2 separate regions of the Homo sapiens genome follow, and region 1 is linked to region 2. Evidence: fine-mapped expression QTL. A gene starts in region 2. The other region holds a variant in brackets. All regions are shown on one strand. Distances are between the middles of the regions. Region 1 holds the start of CPB2 (carboxypeptidase B2). Region 2 holds the start of CPB2-AS1 (CPB2 antisense RNA 1).

Evidence for each region. PIP is the estimated chance that this variant, and not a neighbour inherited with it, causes the effect.
Region 1: its variant is fine-mapped to the expression of CPB2-AS1 in unexposed skin (GTEx, PIP 0.97).

Annotation. Positions count from the first base shown.
Region 1 is chr13:46,097,150-46,105,149 of GRCh38, reverse strand. It overlaps CPB2 (carboxypeptidase B2), which reads left to right and starts at 117. Exons shown (of 11, transcript NM_001872.5): 1 at 117-214. The coding sequence starts at 141. CPB2-AS1 (CPB2 antisense RNA 1) reads right to left here. Exons shown (of 3, transcript NR_046227.1): 3 at 3,803-6,752. The variant G/T (reference allele first, on the strand shown) is at 3,571.
Region 2 is chr13:46,045,990-46,055,966 of GRCh38, reverse strand. It overlaps CPB2-AS1 (CPB2 antisense RNA 1), which reads right to left and starts at 3,119. Exons shown (of 3, transcript NR_046227.1): 1 at 3,002-3,119. ZC3H13 (zinc finger CCCH-type containing 13) reads left to right here and starts at 3,221. Exons shown (of 19, transcript NM_001330564.2): 1 at 3,221-3,563. It overlaps CPB2 (carboxypeptidase B2), which reads left to right. Exons shown (of 11, transcript NM_001872.5): 10 at 118-205; 11 at 2,169-2,781. The coding sequence ends at 2,353. RefSeq lists enhancers at 3,056-3,255, 3,266-3,435, 2,965-3,500, 3,501-4,037.

The DNA.
Region 1 (8,000 bases), 50 kb before region 2:
AAGCTAAGTTGATTGACCCACAGGAACAAGAGGGAACATGCCGTTATATTTTAACCAGTGTGTAAAGAAGGCTGTTATGCAATCAATGATCTGGGTTTTTCTCTTCAGAGAAATTTGTTGTACAGAAAATTGCTGTTGGGATGAAGCTTTGCAGCCTTGCAGTCCTTGTACCCATTGTTCTCTTCTGTGAGCAGCATGTCTTCGCGTTTCAGAGGTAACCCAATAGAATCTTAGACTGTGGTGGGCCACTCTCCTCACTTGTTTGCCTCATGTCGTGTCAAGTCAGTGCACTGAGCTGGTGGACAAAATGGTAAACTTTGAAGGCCAGGTCTTTCAGAACTTTCCAAGTTGCCCTGACAAATAAGTAGACTTTAGCACAATGGGCTATCACTAAAGACAGGGTCTTTTTTCTTTCCTGGCTCTGGTTTTATTATTGGGAGAACCTTGGATGATACGCATATCCAGTGACTATGGAGATTCAAGAAATTAAATCTTTTATAAACGTAACTATTTATACTCTAACTTGATGTATGATTCATATTCTTCCTGTCTTCACATAAAAAAAGTTAACTATGGATCATTTATTTTCCCCTTGTACATGGAACATAGGAGGAAGAAGAGGGTGAAGTGTTAAATAGGAGGTTTGGATCATGCATGATTATTTAGCATGGAATATGAAAGGAAGAAGAGTTGTGTGATAAAGAACTATTATCTGATTCTTATTTTGCTTAGTAGATTCCCTTAGGATAAACTATCTAGAAGAACACAAATGAATTCATGCTATAGCACATGCAATGCATGGAGAAAATAGTTCCAGGGTATATGTAATGTAATTTATTAAGTAGTCAATTTTTAGGCTTTAAAACATTGATATTGTTTCCTTTGGAATTATCTTATTTTTTCCCCTTTGTTTTGGTTCTATGATCGCTTTCTCCTCCAATTATCTTTGAGACAGATCCCTCTCCTCATGTTAGTAAATGACAAAGAAAGAAGAGACATAGGGCAAAGGAATATACCAGTGACAAGGAACATTCTACCACCAAAAAAATGTTCACGGTCATAAATAACCATAGGACAATGGTTTGGAAAATAGATCTTGACTTGTGAGCCTGAAGCTGTGTTTGTACATGATCACTGAACTGATTATAGTTGATTGATCTTCTTTTGTTCAACATGATTGTCGAATGTCGAGCAACAAATTCTATCATAAAATGATATTATTTTTGTTATTTAATTGACGTGGGGGTCAAGATTGCTGCAATGATCAGTGACTTATGTCTTTCTCTGTATTTTATCGGTGAATCATATGGTCAGGATTTCTAAGGTTCTTGCTAGTTCTAATATTCCATAACTTGATAATTGGCTTCAGTTAAGGGAAAGGGGGAGAAGAGAAAAATTGGTATCAACATGTCCAACTTGGCTACTGTACACAGTGGCAGTACCATTGACAGTTAGGGGAAAGGGAGGAAACCTCTGCTTATTTAGTGCCTGTGTTTGTGCCAGGCACTGAACTAGTCACTTAGAAATGTTATCTCTTTAAATGCATAAAATCCTACATGCTAGGAATCTTTACTGACATTTTACAAAGGAGGAAACTGAGCCTCAGGAAGAATAAATAATTGGCCCAAGATCAAACAGTAAATGTAGAGCTTGGATTCAAACCCACTTTAGCCTCATTTCAACTCCATGCACTGGACAGCATTGCCTCCATAAAATCTGGAAATTAGGAAGAGAGCCAGTTTGAAGGAAGGTCAGATTTAGTCAAAGGGAGTTGCAGGCAGCAGTTGGTTTGGAAAGTAGCTTGGAAGAGAGGTTCGGGATTAGAGGTTCAGTCTCATGGTTCTCACCCACTAGCAGATCTAATCATGGCCTTGGCGTCAGCCCAGTGCAATTATCCTCAGCTGGTTGTTGCAGAGGTTGGCGGGCAGGTGGGCTCACTGCAGACCGCCATCTTGATCGTAGAGTAACCCAAACTCTTGGATAGGATAATCAATAGCAAAACACACTAAAAGCTTTAGCACATCTCTTCAAATGAGTACGTGTATAGCAGCTTAGTGACACTAAATATAACGCAAATAGAAGAAGTAGCCAACAATAAAATAGTAAAAAAATGAGTGAGAACATATCTTCATGCATGGGCTTTGTTACTATTTGTTGCTTCAGCTTATACTCTGAAATCTGACTGATACTTATGCTTGAAAAAAGGAATGAGAATGTGACTATATTTTAACCAAAGAATATCACATTAAAAATATTTAATACTTTTGCATACTGCGAGGGTCCCTTTGCAGAGGAGAGGAGGTAGGAGGACCTCAGTATTGTAGACAGATGAATATCTGAATCCTGGTTCCCATCCCTTCACTGGAAATAACATTGCAAACTACTCTTTCTGTGAGTAAAAATAAATTTTTTTACCAAATGTTTCTGTGCTCCACTTTTCCAGGAATGGCCTATTCCTGAAGCTAAAAAGGAAATCTAATTTCATTCAGGGCAACAGACTTTGATAAATTGTTGCTGGGGTTCAGAATATCAACCCTTCTAAAAAAAAAAAAAAAAACTAACAGTCTGGCTTTTTCTTAAAGCTGTTCTTTGTTTTTTTTTTTTTTTTTGTCATAATCATTTTCCTACTAACAGTTTTTATTCATGCAGTCTCTTAGTGGCTGATTTGTAGGTTCATTTTGATAAATTTCATCAGTGAAATGCCCTGGAACAACAACAAGTTTTAAAGGCATAAATATCATATGCCAAAGGGAAAGGCAGCCAAAAAATCATGACTCCATATTCATTTGCTTTTAAAAGCCAAACACTATAAAGGGTAAAAATAAAATACTAGCAAGAATCTTGTAAACAGAATCAGTAATTGTATTGTGCAGTGATTACCTAAATGCAGCCTGCCAGCCCAGACTATTTGGAAAGAGGAAGTAAGAGACACTAGGAAGAAGACTTAGGAATTAGAGAGTGGAGGAGGGTTGAGGATAAAGGGCTTCTGAATTATTAATAGACCACAGGAAGTGTTCCTCTGTTGACTTCACATACTGTTTGGGTACCTGGAGACCAGTTTACTCTCTTTCACTTTGTTCCTACTGATGTATTGTTTTCATCTCAAAGAACAGGCCACCAGTGGCCTTAAAACACTGTAATGTGTGCAACAAAATTGCAGCCTTGGGCTATGTTCCATTGTTCAGAGACATCTTGCCAGCTTTTTAAATTCAAAATAATCTTTCAGAATGGTGAAAGTGTGAACCCTCCCCTGTAAACCATAGCAGGGGATACACCCCAATGAACATAATGACGTTCTCAGAAGGGAAGGAACAGAGGAAGTGTTGCATAGGTATTAAAAGCTCAGGATCTGGATTCGAGCCCCAGATCTGCTACTTATCACCCATGCAGACTTGGGCAATTTGCTCGTCCCCTTTCAGCCTTTACTTTTTTTTGTAAAGTGACCTGTTACTTCACTGTGCTTGTACTTCTCATTCGATTTTTGGTGCAAGGCTGTTCTTTTTTCTCAAGTGGTTATTGTGTAAGTGCTATAATCGTATCATTCAGAGACGCAGTTGAAACACAGCTTTA[G/T]TTTTTGTCTCCCATTGCCCCATGACATTTTGCGTAGTGGGGTTATCTATCACTGCTCTCGCATGGAAAGTTAGAAAATTTCAAGGCTTTTTAGCCTGCTTTTAAGTGACAGTCCTTGGGTCCTGCTAAAAATACAAATAGCCTCAATTTAGAAATTAGAATGTCACCTCCAACCAAGGTATTGTTCAAATATCCCCATCTTTGTTGTTAAAAGAAAATCTTTAAAAGAATTATATTTAGCAAAATTTAATTGAACAAAGAACAATTTTCTAATCAAGTAACCCTCAAAAACGAAAGAAGTTCAGAGAGTTCTGCTCAGCAAAGTGGGCAGGCAGCACTTATAAACAGCAAATGGAAATGAGGTCCAGAAGCAGCTTGAGTAGTTACAGGTGAGCAGTTGTCTTACTGGGCATAGGCTGATCAGTTGGCCACATGGGATTGGCTGTAGCTTGGCTGCTGTGATTGGCTGAGACTCACCTCGTTAGTACAAAAAAAAAATACTCCTAAGTTAGGTTGCAGTTTGTTATGTAGCGACTCAAGTTACGAGGCATCCTCAGACCAAATTTAGTTTAATTTAACATTATTTATAGGAAAACAACTGCCTCACCTCTTCCACAAACACACCTTACTCTTTTTCTTGTTAGTCTTTTTCTCGAGTTCTAACTTCTTAGAGTTGTGTGAGACATCTTTATTGGGGAAGCCTCTGGACCAGGACAGATGCTTCTTTGTCTAGGTTTTCACTTGCGACTCCATCCTTCCCCGCTAAGAGTCTTGCTTCTACCTCTGGGCTCTTGTTGTTGAGAACCTTCCATCCCTTTAGGTGGCCCTATTGGATGGCATCTAACATTAAGTGTTTCTTTTCATTTTAACTACTACTATCTAGCCAACTAGAGACCAGCCACATGCAGGTTTAGCTTTATCAGGAGAAGCCAGGCACCAGTCTTTGTGTCTGTAAATTTGAGGAAACATCCAACTCTCTCATTATCTCCTGGAAGTCCCCCTACTAGGCTGAGGTAAGGGGAGTGCACCCCGAAACTTCATCCCTTTGGGAGGGTGGTGACTTACAGAACCATAAAAACATGCTAAAAAAAAAAATTCACAAATCCTCTCCCTCTTTCCACTCTGACAGCTTTTTATATAGCCTGTTTATGACTAAGTAAGGGGAAGCAGTCATGAAACCAGTTTCCAAAAATAGAGTGATCTGACTGACCCTCATCCCATTACCTAACTCTGTTGTGTTAGCACTTTGCTCAAATTCTGCATAAGAAGAGTCTGTTCACTACAAGCTGAACTTGGACATATCAATAAATTTTTGGTGAATTTTTAACTTCATAATTTTACTCACTATTTCCTAACTTATTTTTTGAATTTCCTTTATTTTTTCTTCTTAAGAGGTCTCATTTGGATAACATACATTTTTACCTTTATATTTTCTTTCTTTCTCTGCTTGTTGACTAATTTTTATACTTTTCTCCTTCTTTAATACATTAGGTTTTTTTTTAATTTAATACTGCCCACTCAACATTTTTTGTTCATTATTTTCTTTCTTTCTTTTGAGACCTAGTCATGCTCTCTTACCCAGGCTGGAGTCCAGTGGTGTGATTTTGGCTCACTGTAACCTCCACCTCGTGGGTTCAAGTGATTCTCGTGCTTCAGCCTTCTGAGTAGCTGGGACTACAGGTGTGAGCTACTATGCCACGCTTATTTTTGTATTTTTAGTAAAGACAGGGTTTCACCATGTTGGTCAGGCTGGTCTTGAACTCCTGACCTCAGGTGATCCACCCACCTCAGCCTCCCAAAGTGCTGGGATTACAGGCGTGAGCCACTGTGCCTGGCCCATTATTTTCAATATAATAGATTATCTACCATACTGCCTTGTGAGGATTAAATAAGAATACCTGTAAAGCACTTAGCACAATATCCAAGTTACTAAATATCAGTAAAAAAGAAGAAAAGTCCCCCCAGACATATTATGCTCTAGTCAACACAAGACTTCCTCTACATGGACTTGAAATTCAGCATCTCTTTAGATAATGAAGAGCTCATTGCTTGATAAGGTGTCCTATCTCATGGTTAGCTCAAATTGTTAGAAGTTCACACTGAAATTACAGTGATTTAATGATATGAACCTCCACTTCTCTATACTTTACATGAAAAGGAAGCTTTGAGTTTGCCACATCTTTTGCTACAACTCCCAAAATCATGCCCAACCAACTTTTAAGTAAGGGCCACAATCTTGACCCCAGCATTTAAGACCCTTAACAATCAGGTCCTACCCTGCCATTCGTCCTGGCTTTATTTCCTGGTATATCTCTATATAGGCCCCATATTTCTGCCCAGCTGGATCACTTCTCCTTCCTTGAGCTCTGATTTTACTTTTCTACTTGTGCACCTGCACTTATGATGTTTCATCTCCAATTCGTTTAGCAAAATTCTGCCTATGTTAGTCTTATACCATCTCATCTTCCCTTCACCTATTGAATCCTAGTATCTCAGAAGTCCAACTCAGAATATCTCCATTCTCTGACTACCTAAGTCAAAAATGATACCTGACTTTGTATTCCTGTAGCAGAATATTTATACCACTCGCATTGTACTTTTAGTGTTTTATCTCACAGAATAGGCATTTGTATCAGTTGCAGGTTAGTTTCCCCAGGAAACAGACTCCTGAGATGAAGATTGCATGGAGGAAGTTTACTGGAAAGGAATCTCAGGATCAGCATCTGTGGAGGAATGAAGGAAGAAGGCTTGGGCAGAGGAGAAACTGACCTGTGATGTAATCACAACTATGGCCTCACCTGTTCCTGTGGAGAGCCTTGAGGCTGGGTTGGCCTGGTAAAGTTGTCCCAAACTGGGGCAAGCAGGCATGCCTTTGTAACCCCTGTTTATTAGTCACTGGGTGTGGATTGTACCTTGGAGGAGGCATCATGTTGGGCAGCACAGCTCTCTTCAGGCAAGGGCAAGTCCTAGAAAGGGACTCAGGTGAGAATATCAGCTGCCAACCCTCCCAGAAGCTGAGGAGACAAAGAAGCTGAGGAAATAAGAGTTCATCCCTGGATGGAGATCTAGGCAGCAAAACGTGACATCTACTACAGTCCAACCCTTTGTGTCACTCAGGTCAATTTTCTTCATAAAATAAGCTTTGAGATCAACTCTTCTGGGGTTTTGCTTGGTCCCTCTTCCTAAAGGAAATATACAAGAGGAACGTTAGTGAAATAAACTACAACCTTCACAGCTACAGCTAGTCTCGAGGCCATAACCAATACTTGTCATTCCTCTTCTCCCCTACCCGTTCTGTTTTCCCCAAAGAGGTGCCCTTTGCTAGCACCTCTTCTAATCTAGGTGGTTTACCTGGTGAGACAACCCAGACCCTCAATCCTCAAGGATCTGAGTCATAATCACTGGGCCCTCTTGGGCCATGGCTGCTGCAATTGTCTGTATACATCAAATTTGGACAAGGGAATATTACAGAACGCCTAAGCTGGATTCCAAACATATTCTTCCCTGCCACATTCAGTATGTAAGTGCAGCCCTCAATGTCCTTCTGATTATTGGAGTCAATTACCCTTCCTGCATGGCTAGAAAACCCATGGTAACTCCTCGCCTTCCTGATAATCAATCAGCATGAGGAAACTGAAATGACTGGACAGTAACAACAGCTTTCAGTTTAAAGGAACTCTTCCTATGCTCTCTGGAAACCGGAATTTTTATAAGTACAGAGTCCATATTTGTAGATTTAAAGTACTAATTCTCCGAGTGGGTTACTTGGAGTGACGGTATATGGAAACACTCCAACTTGGTTCCTGGAACCATGTATACTACCTAGTAGGGACACAGCACCACATGAGTATTGATTTAAAGTGTGCACTGGAGGATGTTGCCTTCCAAGTTAGCACCTCAATTGATCCTTCAACAAACCATTTTTATTTCAGTAACAGGATAGCAGCAACTAGGTATTCTGGTATGTGAGAGGCTAAGTGGATTCCATGGTAATGGACCCATTTCTGCAATTCCCTTGTTGTAAAGTGGAGCCCATGATCTGATAGGATGTTATGTGAGATGTTTTATCAGTGGTCAAACACTCCGTAAGCCCTTGTATGGTGATGCTTGCCTGAGGCCCTACAGGCAGGCGAGATAAACCCATACCCAGAGTGGAAGAGGACAGATGTAGTCAACTTACCACCCAGTGACTAGCTGGTCTCTATGAGGAATGGTGCTGATTCCGGGGCTCAACTTTGGTCTCCGTTGCTGGCAAGTTAGACATGGGGCAGCAACAGTAGCTAGATCAGCCTTAATGAGAGGAGTCCGTGCTGCTGGAGCCATGCACACTTCATCTCTGCCATCAGGCTATTCTGTTCTAGTGCCTTTTGTGCCAGCATTGGGGTGGCTGTTGACACAGGCTGACTGACATCAACTGGCTGAGTCATTTG
Region 2 (9,977 bases):
TAGATTTTCTACCTGTATACTTTGATTCAATTAATGTATGATTATTTTTTAGAAACTTCTACTTGTCATGTTTCAAAGCTGCACATTAACTGAAATTCTATATCTTGTTGCTTCCAGTCTCTAGTAGCCAGTGAAGCAGTTCGTGCTATTGAGAAAATTAGTAAAAATACCAGGTATACACATGGCCATGGCTCAGAAACCTTATGTAAGTATTTCTTCTTATGATCTTAGAGAACTTTGAGCTACTAAAGAAATCTGTGTGATCTGTTTTTCTTTGTGTATTTAATTTTTCTGAATTAAATAGGGTCACATGTAATACAACTGAATTGTAATAATTAGGAACAGAAGCATAATAGCTATGACAATGCTGAACAAAGCTATATTAATAAATGAGTTACTAAAAAGAAGCCAAAATCCTATTTAAGAAATCATATTTATCACAATCAAGTAGGAATTACAGAATTGGCATCATACTAGTTGAGTGAAGCAGAAAAGTTCATAAAACTTTTGCATGATTCCCAGGGCCACCATGGAAGGTTGTGCAGGTTGTACACTACACTAATCTAGGGCATGCCATTTGCATCAAGTGTTTTTTAGTGTTAGCCTGTTCCCAAGAGTATAGCTCATAACACATTACAGTTGATTGTCTTTAATATATATTACACACACAAAACTTGTGACAAACTCTTAACAAAAAGTTTTGATTAATTTTTGCTGAAAGATATTTAGTGAGTAACTCCTATCTACACACAGTGGGAGGACAGACTGATTTTGCCCTTTTGAAGTTTGAAGGGAGATGGGAAAAGAGGAGCATAAAATAAACCTGTAACCAGGCATCAGAAAACTACAGCCTGAAGGCCAAATCCAGGTTTTTCCTTTTTTTTTTTTTTTTAATGATTAGAAAAAAACAAAAAGAGGCCAGGTGCTGTGGCTCATGCCTGTAATACCAGCACTTTGGGAGGCTGAGGCAGGAGGATCACTTGAGGTCAGGAGTTCGAGACCAGACTGGCCAACATGGTGAAACCCTGTCTCTACTAAAAATACAAAAATTAGCTGGGCATGGTGGCAGGCGCCTGTAATGCCAGCTACTTGGTTGGCTAATGCATAAGAATTACTTGAACCTGGGAGGTGGGGGTGGCAATGAGCTGAGATTGTGCAACTGCACTCTAGCCTGGGTGACAGAGTGAGACTCCATCTCAAAAAAGGTCGAAACTGTATTTATCATGAACACTAAAATATGTACACATTTTAGTTAACATGCATTAAACTGTAACAAGTCTTCTGGCAATTGTAGCTTTCATGAGATGCTTCCCAAACTGTATTAGATAGATGCTAAAATTATAAATTAAAATTTTGGGTCAGACTTTGCCATAAACCTGGACTCAATTTAGCACCCCCCCAAAAAAAGTCAGATTATTCAATTAATGCGGTTGGAAAACCTAACAAGTTACCTAGAAAAAAATTAATTGGATTATTAACATGTCTTTCACCAAAGTAAATTCCAGGTACAGCATATATTTTCATATGAAAACCCTGCATAAACCAAGTTGAAATCTCAGTAAGGAGAAAAAATTCTTGTGAAAGGAGAAATGAATGAAAGGAGAAAAAAAGGTCTACATGCCAAACAAAGCTAATAACACTAATGTCGTTTTTATAAGCAATTGATAAAATGAACCAAGTAGACAAATGAGGAAGGACAATTGATAGGAAATATAAAGATAGCCAATAAATATGCCAAACAAATGTGCAACTCACTGATAATCAAAAAACATAAATTAAGACAGTTGGATATTATTTTTCGCCCATAAAATTATCAGAATTCATAATTCCTATTGATGGTATGGGAAGGGGAAATGGGCAAATTCATACCCTGCTTGTGGAAGTATAAATGAATTCAGTTCTTTTGACGTCCATTTGGGAACATGCCGTAATTGCAAAAAGTACAGAGCCTTAGACTAGCAAATCTATTCTAGGGAAGAATATTCTAAAGAGACAAAGAAGCAATTATGTATAAACAAGGGTACTCATTGTAAAGTTGTTTATATTAGTTAAAAACTGAAAAAAATCTAAAGGTATACAAACAAATAAACATTTAAATCAAACAATTCCCAGTTTGTAAATTAATTTGAAACGTCTGTATTTCAACAATTTCTTTCTTCTTCTTTTAGACCTAGCTCCTGGAGGTGGGGACGATTGGATCTATGATTTGGGCATCAAATATTCGTTTACAATTGAACTTCGAGATACGGGCACATACGGATTCTTGCTGCCGGAGCGTTACATCAAACCCACCTGTAGAGAAGCTTTTGCCGCTGTCTCTAAAATAGCTTGGCATGTCATTAGGAATGTTTAATGCCCCTGATTTTATCATTCTGCTTCCGTATTTTAATTTACTGATTCCAGCAAGACCAAATCATTGTATCAAATTATTTTTAAGTTTTATCCGTAGTTTTGATAAAAGATTTTCCTATTCCTTGGTTCTGTCAGAGAACCTAATAAGTGCTACTTTGCCATTAAGGCAGACTAGGGTTCATGTCTTTTTACCCTTTAAAAAAAATTGTAAAAGTCTAGTTACCTACTTTTTCTTTGATTTTCGACGTTTGACTAGCCATCTCAAGCAAGTTTCGACGTTTGACTAGCCATCTCAAGCAAGTTTAATCAATGATCATCTCACGCTGATCATTGGATCCTACTCAACAAAAGGAAGGGTGGTCAGAAGTACATTAAAGATTTCTGCTCCAAATTTTCAATAAATTTCTGCTTGTGCCTTTAGAAATACAACCATGCATTCCGTTTGCTCCACGGTAATTAGGCGATGGCCCAGAAAGGGGAGGGGTGTCAAAAACGACAAACATAGCCTCTCATTCCAGCTCAGCTGCTCAATAAACACTGTTGAACGAATGAATGAGTGGCTCTAGGTACTGTCAACAAATGCCGCATTTTGCGCATTTACAACAGCTGTTTATGGTAAGGAATTATGTAATAAAAAGAGAAAACTCACTTAAATTCACTTTTAATTGGGAATTTTAGTTCTCCCGGGCTCCCAGTTTCCTTTCCTAGGATCTCTCACAGAGCACAGATTCGATTTCCAAGTCCCGCCGCACTCTTACCGCTCGCATGGAACCTTACGCCTAGAGGGCGTGTCCACGAAGGGTGGTGTCTGCGCACTGACGACTAATCTGACGGCCGGAAGCTGCCTGGGTCTACAGAGGAACAGGGCAAACCTCTGACTTCCGGCGGCATTTTGAGGCGGTCCTCCTAGCGGCCTGGTAGTGTTTTTGTTGCCTTTTCTTAATCTACAATCTCTTCGTTATTTTTCTTCCTGCGACCCAGTTTCGCTTGACCCTGGAGAGGCGGCGGGCGGGTTGGTTCTGCTTCTCAGCCATCCCGGGGGCTCCTCGCTAGCCAAGAGCCGGTTCCCGGGAGCCGCGCGCGCATCGCTTTCTCCTCGTCGTCGTCCTCCTGGGTCCAGGCGCGGGGACAGAGTCGCCTCCCCCGCTCCTCGGAGCGGCGGCGGCGGTGGTGCCTCCGGACTGCACTTGCGAAGGGAGCTTGGGGAGGAAGTAAGCGTTCTGTGAATTGGTGTGGGTATCTGGGGAAGGCATTGAGCGGACCCGTAATGCGGAGGCCCGGGTTACCCCCCCCCGTCTTTGCTTGAGTCACTGGGATTTTGAGCTTTCCTTGAGCATCCCACCCTTAACTCTGCAATAGCCCCCTGTGCTCAGGCGTAATTTCTCACTCTGATTATGATTCTGGCATTTGTCTAAGGGCGATAAGTAGACTCAGACAATAGGCTGTACCCCTCGTTACCATTTGATGTAAGCACGGGAACCCTTGTATGGTGTTCGTATTTGTGTGCGATGGAAGGGTGCAGCAATTTGGGCTTAAATTTAGAATCTTCCTCTATACTCATTCCAGATCTGTTAGAGAAAAACATCTTACTTGTGATTGGTCTTGTTTTTTTTTTTTTCCCTCAGCAGTGATAACGATTTAGGTCCTGGGAATTGAGTGCTACTTTATCTTCACAAGCCTTAGGTAGGTAGTTTTGGCAACTGTCAGAAACGGGGGAAAGTGGAATAGAAAGAAGAGAGTCTGTTTGGCGGCATTATCTCTCTGTAATAGGCTAACGCAATTTATGTGGTTTGAAAATTATTTAGAGTTGATAATACTTGAATTATGTTGGTAAGATGTTGTTTGTGAAGGGTAGTCTTAAGGTATTTGGTTATACTATGGGGCTTTCAGGTAATTCGAACTACTTTGAAAATTATGGGAGTATGAAGTCTCTTAAGATTTTTGGATTTTTAAAGTAGTTTTAAAAATTTGGAAAACATCTTTACACCTCAAGTTTTCGAAGTCCGCGATACCGTTGGAGAATAAATACTTATGCAGTTCAGTCTATGGGTATATGGTGCCAGTTAGCGGGGTCTAGTTCTGTAACATTTGAAATTACTGGCTTTAGTACAATATATTGGAGCGTTTTGTGAATACAATCTATAGATTTTCAAATAATTTTTATTTTCTTAATGAACTATTTAGATTATAACAGATGACAGTTTCAACTAGAGACTAGCAAAGTTGATGCAAGCTTGTAACAATTGCGGCTTTAAAAATAGTTGCACTCTGAAACTAAGGCTTTCACTCTGTGCATCTGGTAGGATTCAGTTTTATCAAATGTATGCCTCTTACTGGCTTCCTGATTACTGGTCATTCTAAATGAACATTGCATATTTTGAGATTTGCAAGCTTATGTGATTTTCATATTTGTAATATGAATTTAACATACTAAAAATCCAGCAAGTGGATGGTATCTTAACATCTTTACAAATTATTAAAATTGTAATATCATCAGTATTTATAATATGCATTGGCATTTACATAGAGGAAACACATTGTTTAACTTAAATTTACTTAGAGAGTTGGTTTTCAGTGGATGATAGTCTTCCTCACCTCCTCATCTCTCCCAACTCCATCTCATATAGAGGTGGAGCTATTTCTCCAGCTGTTAGTAGTAGTTGAAGCATTAACTGCTGTTGATATAGAAAGAGTCTTTTATTCTTTTTTTTTTGTATTTTTGTATGATGCAGTTCTTTTTACTTCACTTTAGAGTAGCTACCAGCATGGGATGTTTTCTGTGCACAGTCTTTTTAACAAATTGTTTTTTCTGCATAGTACTGCAGTGTTGCTTTGCTAATTCCTATGTAGTCAGCTTAGTTCTGTCAGTTGTATTTGGAATTTAGTTTGGAATTGTTTTAGCATTAAATTTACGGAAGCAATCTGAAAGTTTGTTTTAGAAAGTTCTTTTTAAAAAATTCTCTCAAACTATGCATCAAATAAAGTTAATTTTTCTTTCTAAAAATATGAAGTATAAATGTGAAGATACCTTATTTTTAGTATCACCTTTTTAATCTTAGAAATTCAGAGTATAGGGATTTATCCTACTAGTTAGTACATTCATGTAGTTTTAATTGCCTAATTGTTTGAAATTTCCCTAATATTATGCCGCTACTCATCCGGATTAAAGTGTTATGCTTTCACTTATGCTTCCAGTAGATGAGACCTGGAAAAGATAATTAATTATGGATTGAAGTGAAGATACTAGAACGCATATGTGTTTATTGACAAGATTTTATTAATTGAGCTTCTGGAGTCATTATTCAAAAAGAGACCCTTTTGTATGCTTCTCCTTTCTCAGCCATAATTATAATGTGAACCTTCTGAGTACAGTGTTATTCTAAGTTTCTCGGGGCAAGGGAGCAGTTCCCATTTAAGACCCTCTTTTGTTGTGTCTTTATTAATAGACTCAAACTTTGTGTCCCGGATTTTCTTTTTCTTTTTCCATTTTCTTTTTTAATTGAAAAGAGATTATAAAGACTTCAGATATTCATTTGCTCTGCAAATGGAGAGGAGAAATAGGAAAATAACGAAATAGGCTTTCACTAGTGCCACTCTGTCTTTGATAATGCTCGTGTTTGAGAAAGACTTGATGATGTGGGTGGAAGTGTGATGGCAACTTAAACCAAATAATAATTTGAAAACAAAAATGGAGGAAAACCTTCATAGAAGAGTAAATTAGTAAGTTATTGGTATGACCTTGATTTCTATTCTCTATGATAGGAAAGACTTTAGTATTTACATTTTTATCTTATGGTTTCTAATTTTTCTCATATACTTTGAAGCATTTACTTGTCATGTTCAGCCTGTTCATACATAATTTGAAAAAGTTTCCCGCCCCGAAAATCTACATTTTAACTGTTGTGGTGTTCATTTTCCTTTACGGGCCCAAAGTTTTAAATAGGATTGAAAATTCTAATTGTCACATTAGTTGGTAACATTTAGTTTTAATATATGAAAAAGGAAATGTTTTTCTGCTGTATTGTAGATAGTGTGTATATTTTTAGATAAATGGGATTTTTAAAGTTATATATTGTGTTCTTTACAAGCATGAAGCATTTTGTTTATTCAAATTCATGAATGTCTCATTAGTAATATTTAAGTAACATTTTATTGTTGACTACTTGTGGAAGTTTTTACATGGATGATCAGAAGAATTTTTTCAGTTAGAAATCTTCAGTTTCTGCTTTTTTCTTTTTTCACCAGACGTTTTACACACACACATATATATATCACATTAAAGAACATTTTATTAAGAATATGTGTGTGTGTATTATTGTTGTCATTATTCTTGTTTTAAATGTTCAGTCCAGGACCTTGCTGTAACCCAGACCGCATACTCAGATGCTGTATTACTTTAGGACAAAGTATGGTACTCTTGGAGTCTGAGAAAAAGTAGAGTACATCTTTTTTTTTTTTTTTTTTGAGACGGAGTCTCCCTCTGTTGCCAGGTTGGAGTGCAGTGGCGCGATCTCGGCTCACTGCAACCTCCACCTCCCGGGTTCAAGCGATTCTCCTGCCTCAGCTTCCCGAGTAGCTGGGATTACAGGCGTGCACCGCCACACCCAGCTAATTTTTGTATTTTTAGTAGAGACGGGGTTTCACCATGTTGGCCAGGATGGTCTCGATCTGTTGGCCAGGATGGTCTCAATCTCTTGACCTCGTGATCCGCCTGCCTTGGCCTCCCAAAGTGCTGGGATTACAGGCGTGAGTCACTGCGCTTGGCCACATTTTTACTTAATTTCATTTCTTCGCTAAATTGGGAGACTCAGTACAGTAGTAGCTGCAAGTGAAATTCCTGGGATAATTACTATGTAGGTGAATCTTGAATAGTTCTTGATGTCACTGGTAAAAGCAATTTTGTCTCTGTGGAAAGAATATGGGCGTAGGGTGAGGGAGGTGAGGAGGTGGATCATTAGTCTTCACTTGATTGTCTTTCATAGCAAGTCCAACCCTTGAAATCTTCAAAGTTTTTTTTTTTTTTTTTTTTTTTTTGAGGCGGAGTCTCACTCTGTCACCCAGGCTGGAGTGCAGTGGCGCAATCTCGGCTCACTGCAAGCTCCGCCTCCCGGGTTCACGCCATTCTCCCGCCTCAGCCTCCCGAGTAGCTGGGACTACAGGCGCCTGCCACCACGCCCGGCTAATTTTGTTTTTGTATTTTTAGTAGAGACAGGGTTTCACCATGTTAGCCAGCATGGTCTCGATCTCCTGACTTCGTGATCCGCCCGCCTCGGCCTCCCAAAGTGCTGGGATTACAGGCGTGAGCCACCGCGCCCGGCGAAATCTTCAAAGTTTGCCTTAGGGAGTCTAGGATTGGAGAGAAGCTCTCAGACCAGCAAAGCAATAGGTCAAGGGAGGAGAGTAGTGCGAATCAGGCAACAGAGGACAGACCAGAAAAAGAAACTGTAGAGTTAATACCTGGAACCCTCAAAAAGTAAAAAGAAAGGAGATGATAGATGACCAATGTTTTAAGTATAATAAGTACGATAATAAATAGCCTGTCGTCCTAACTGGAAACCATTACCATTGAATTTTTTGAAGGAGACTGAGCTGGGAGTGGAGGCATGTTGGGGGTAGTAGAGATGTTGGGGGCAGAACTAACTCATTTCCAGTGACAGTGGAGGGAAAAATAAAAAATTAGTGTTAGTCCACTTGAGGCAGTGTGGTGGGATGGTTGTGCCTGTTTTCTAAGTTCTACATAACTAGCAAATAAGGAAATTTTGGAACCTATTCAATTTTGTTTATTAAGAAATGTTTTAAAAATTGAATTATTGGTTGAGGATTACTCTATATTTGTATATTAATGTAGCAATATATAATGAAACTTTATGTTTTTCTCAAACTTCTTATACATTGTGATACATTTACTTATTATTGAATCATGCTTGGATATATATTGTTAAAAAAGTTTTTCTCAAAGCTCTACATTTTCTAGATCTTTCTCAGCTCCACTTCTCTTAGCTTTCAGTTTTTTCGTGCTCAGTAAATCAAATAGACATAGGAAATTTTACCAGCTTCTCCTCCGTATGTTCACATTTCAGCTGAGAATGAGTCTAAGAAAAATTAAATCAAAGATTATCTTATAATGCTAACACCAGTATGTAGAATTGGTGTGTAGTTCCTTACTTGGAGAACAATTAATATTTAATTGATTTTGTGTTGCAGCAAATTATTGTTTATGTGATGCTCTCCACTGGTTCTTAAATTTATAATTACTGTGAAGTAATTCTGTTTTTAAAATCACTAAAAATTAATTGCTATTATATCAAAAGAATTATTACATTTTATATTGATAAAAATATAGATTTTCCAATTTAAAATCACCATATATTATTTCATATTTTCCTTCCTTGATGCACCATCTTTTATTTATCAAATGTTGTTCTTAGTCTTTGGATTCTTTTAAAAGTGTGACCTGAAGTACCTCATTGAACCAAACACTGTTTATAATTTTTTATTGCTGTTTCAATTAGGTACTACCACGATTTAATTTCCTTTAAAGTGATATGTCTTTACTTTGAAACCACATTAAAGATTTGTGATCTTTATAGAGACTAAATGAAACTTTTTTAGCTGCTGTGGTTCATTCTAGTAACTTTTGATGATTGATAAGATTTCAACTAATATTTAGTTTGTATAAAGCGGGATATAGTATGGTGTTTTTTTTCCTTCCCCTTATGAGGCAGTTTCTACCCTCTTCCCACAGTAGTGTATGCTCTGGATTGTATCTTGGTCTAGAATTTAATATTGTTTTCTAATGTCATAATATACTGTCATTATCTGATACTTGCAAATCTAGTTGAATTACCCAATTATGTCATTGGATTAGATTTTTACTATAGTTTCAGTTTTTGAATGTTTTATTTACATACATATATATATATAGAGAGAGTTTTTTTGTTTTTTTTGAGATGGAGTCTCGCTTTGTCGCCCAGGCTGGAGTGCGGTGGTGTGATCTCGGCTCACTGCAAGCTCTGCCTCCTGGGTTCATGCTATTCTCCTGCCTCAGCCTCCAGAGTAGCTGGGACTACAGGCGCCCGCCACCATGCCCAGCTAATTTTTTTTTTTTTTTTGTATTTTTAGTAGAGACGGAGTTTTGCCATGTTAGCCAGGATGGTCTCGATCTCCTGACCTCATGATCCGCCCGCCTCGGCCTCCCAAAGTGCTGGGATTACAGGCACGAGCCACTGTGCCTGGCCCTTAAAAAATATTTTTATGTTTACATCAAATCTAACAGAGCTTAAACGTAAAATAAAATAAAAATATTTTTACAATTTGCCTTTTTTGTTATTACTAATAATGGTAAAATAGTCTGATAATTACTTTTAACACCTTTGAATTTTATGTCAGTGTAGTATAGATTATAGAAACACCTCGACTTTTTCTAGTTCTACAGTCTGTCCTGTTTTGAAAGTTGTTTCTATCAACATTGAGTTTTGTTTTGTTTTGTTTTTGTGTTACTGGAAAATAAATATGCTTGATCAGATTGTTTTGACTTCTGTCAGGCAAAGAAAATACTAAAATATCATTCATTTTTCTCAACCTGATTTTTGGAACATAACTGCTGTTGTCCCTTAAACTTATGA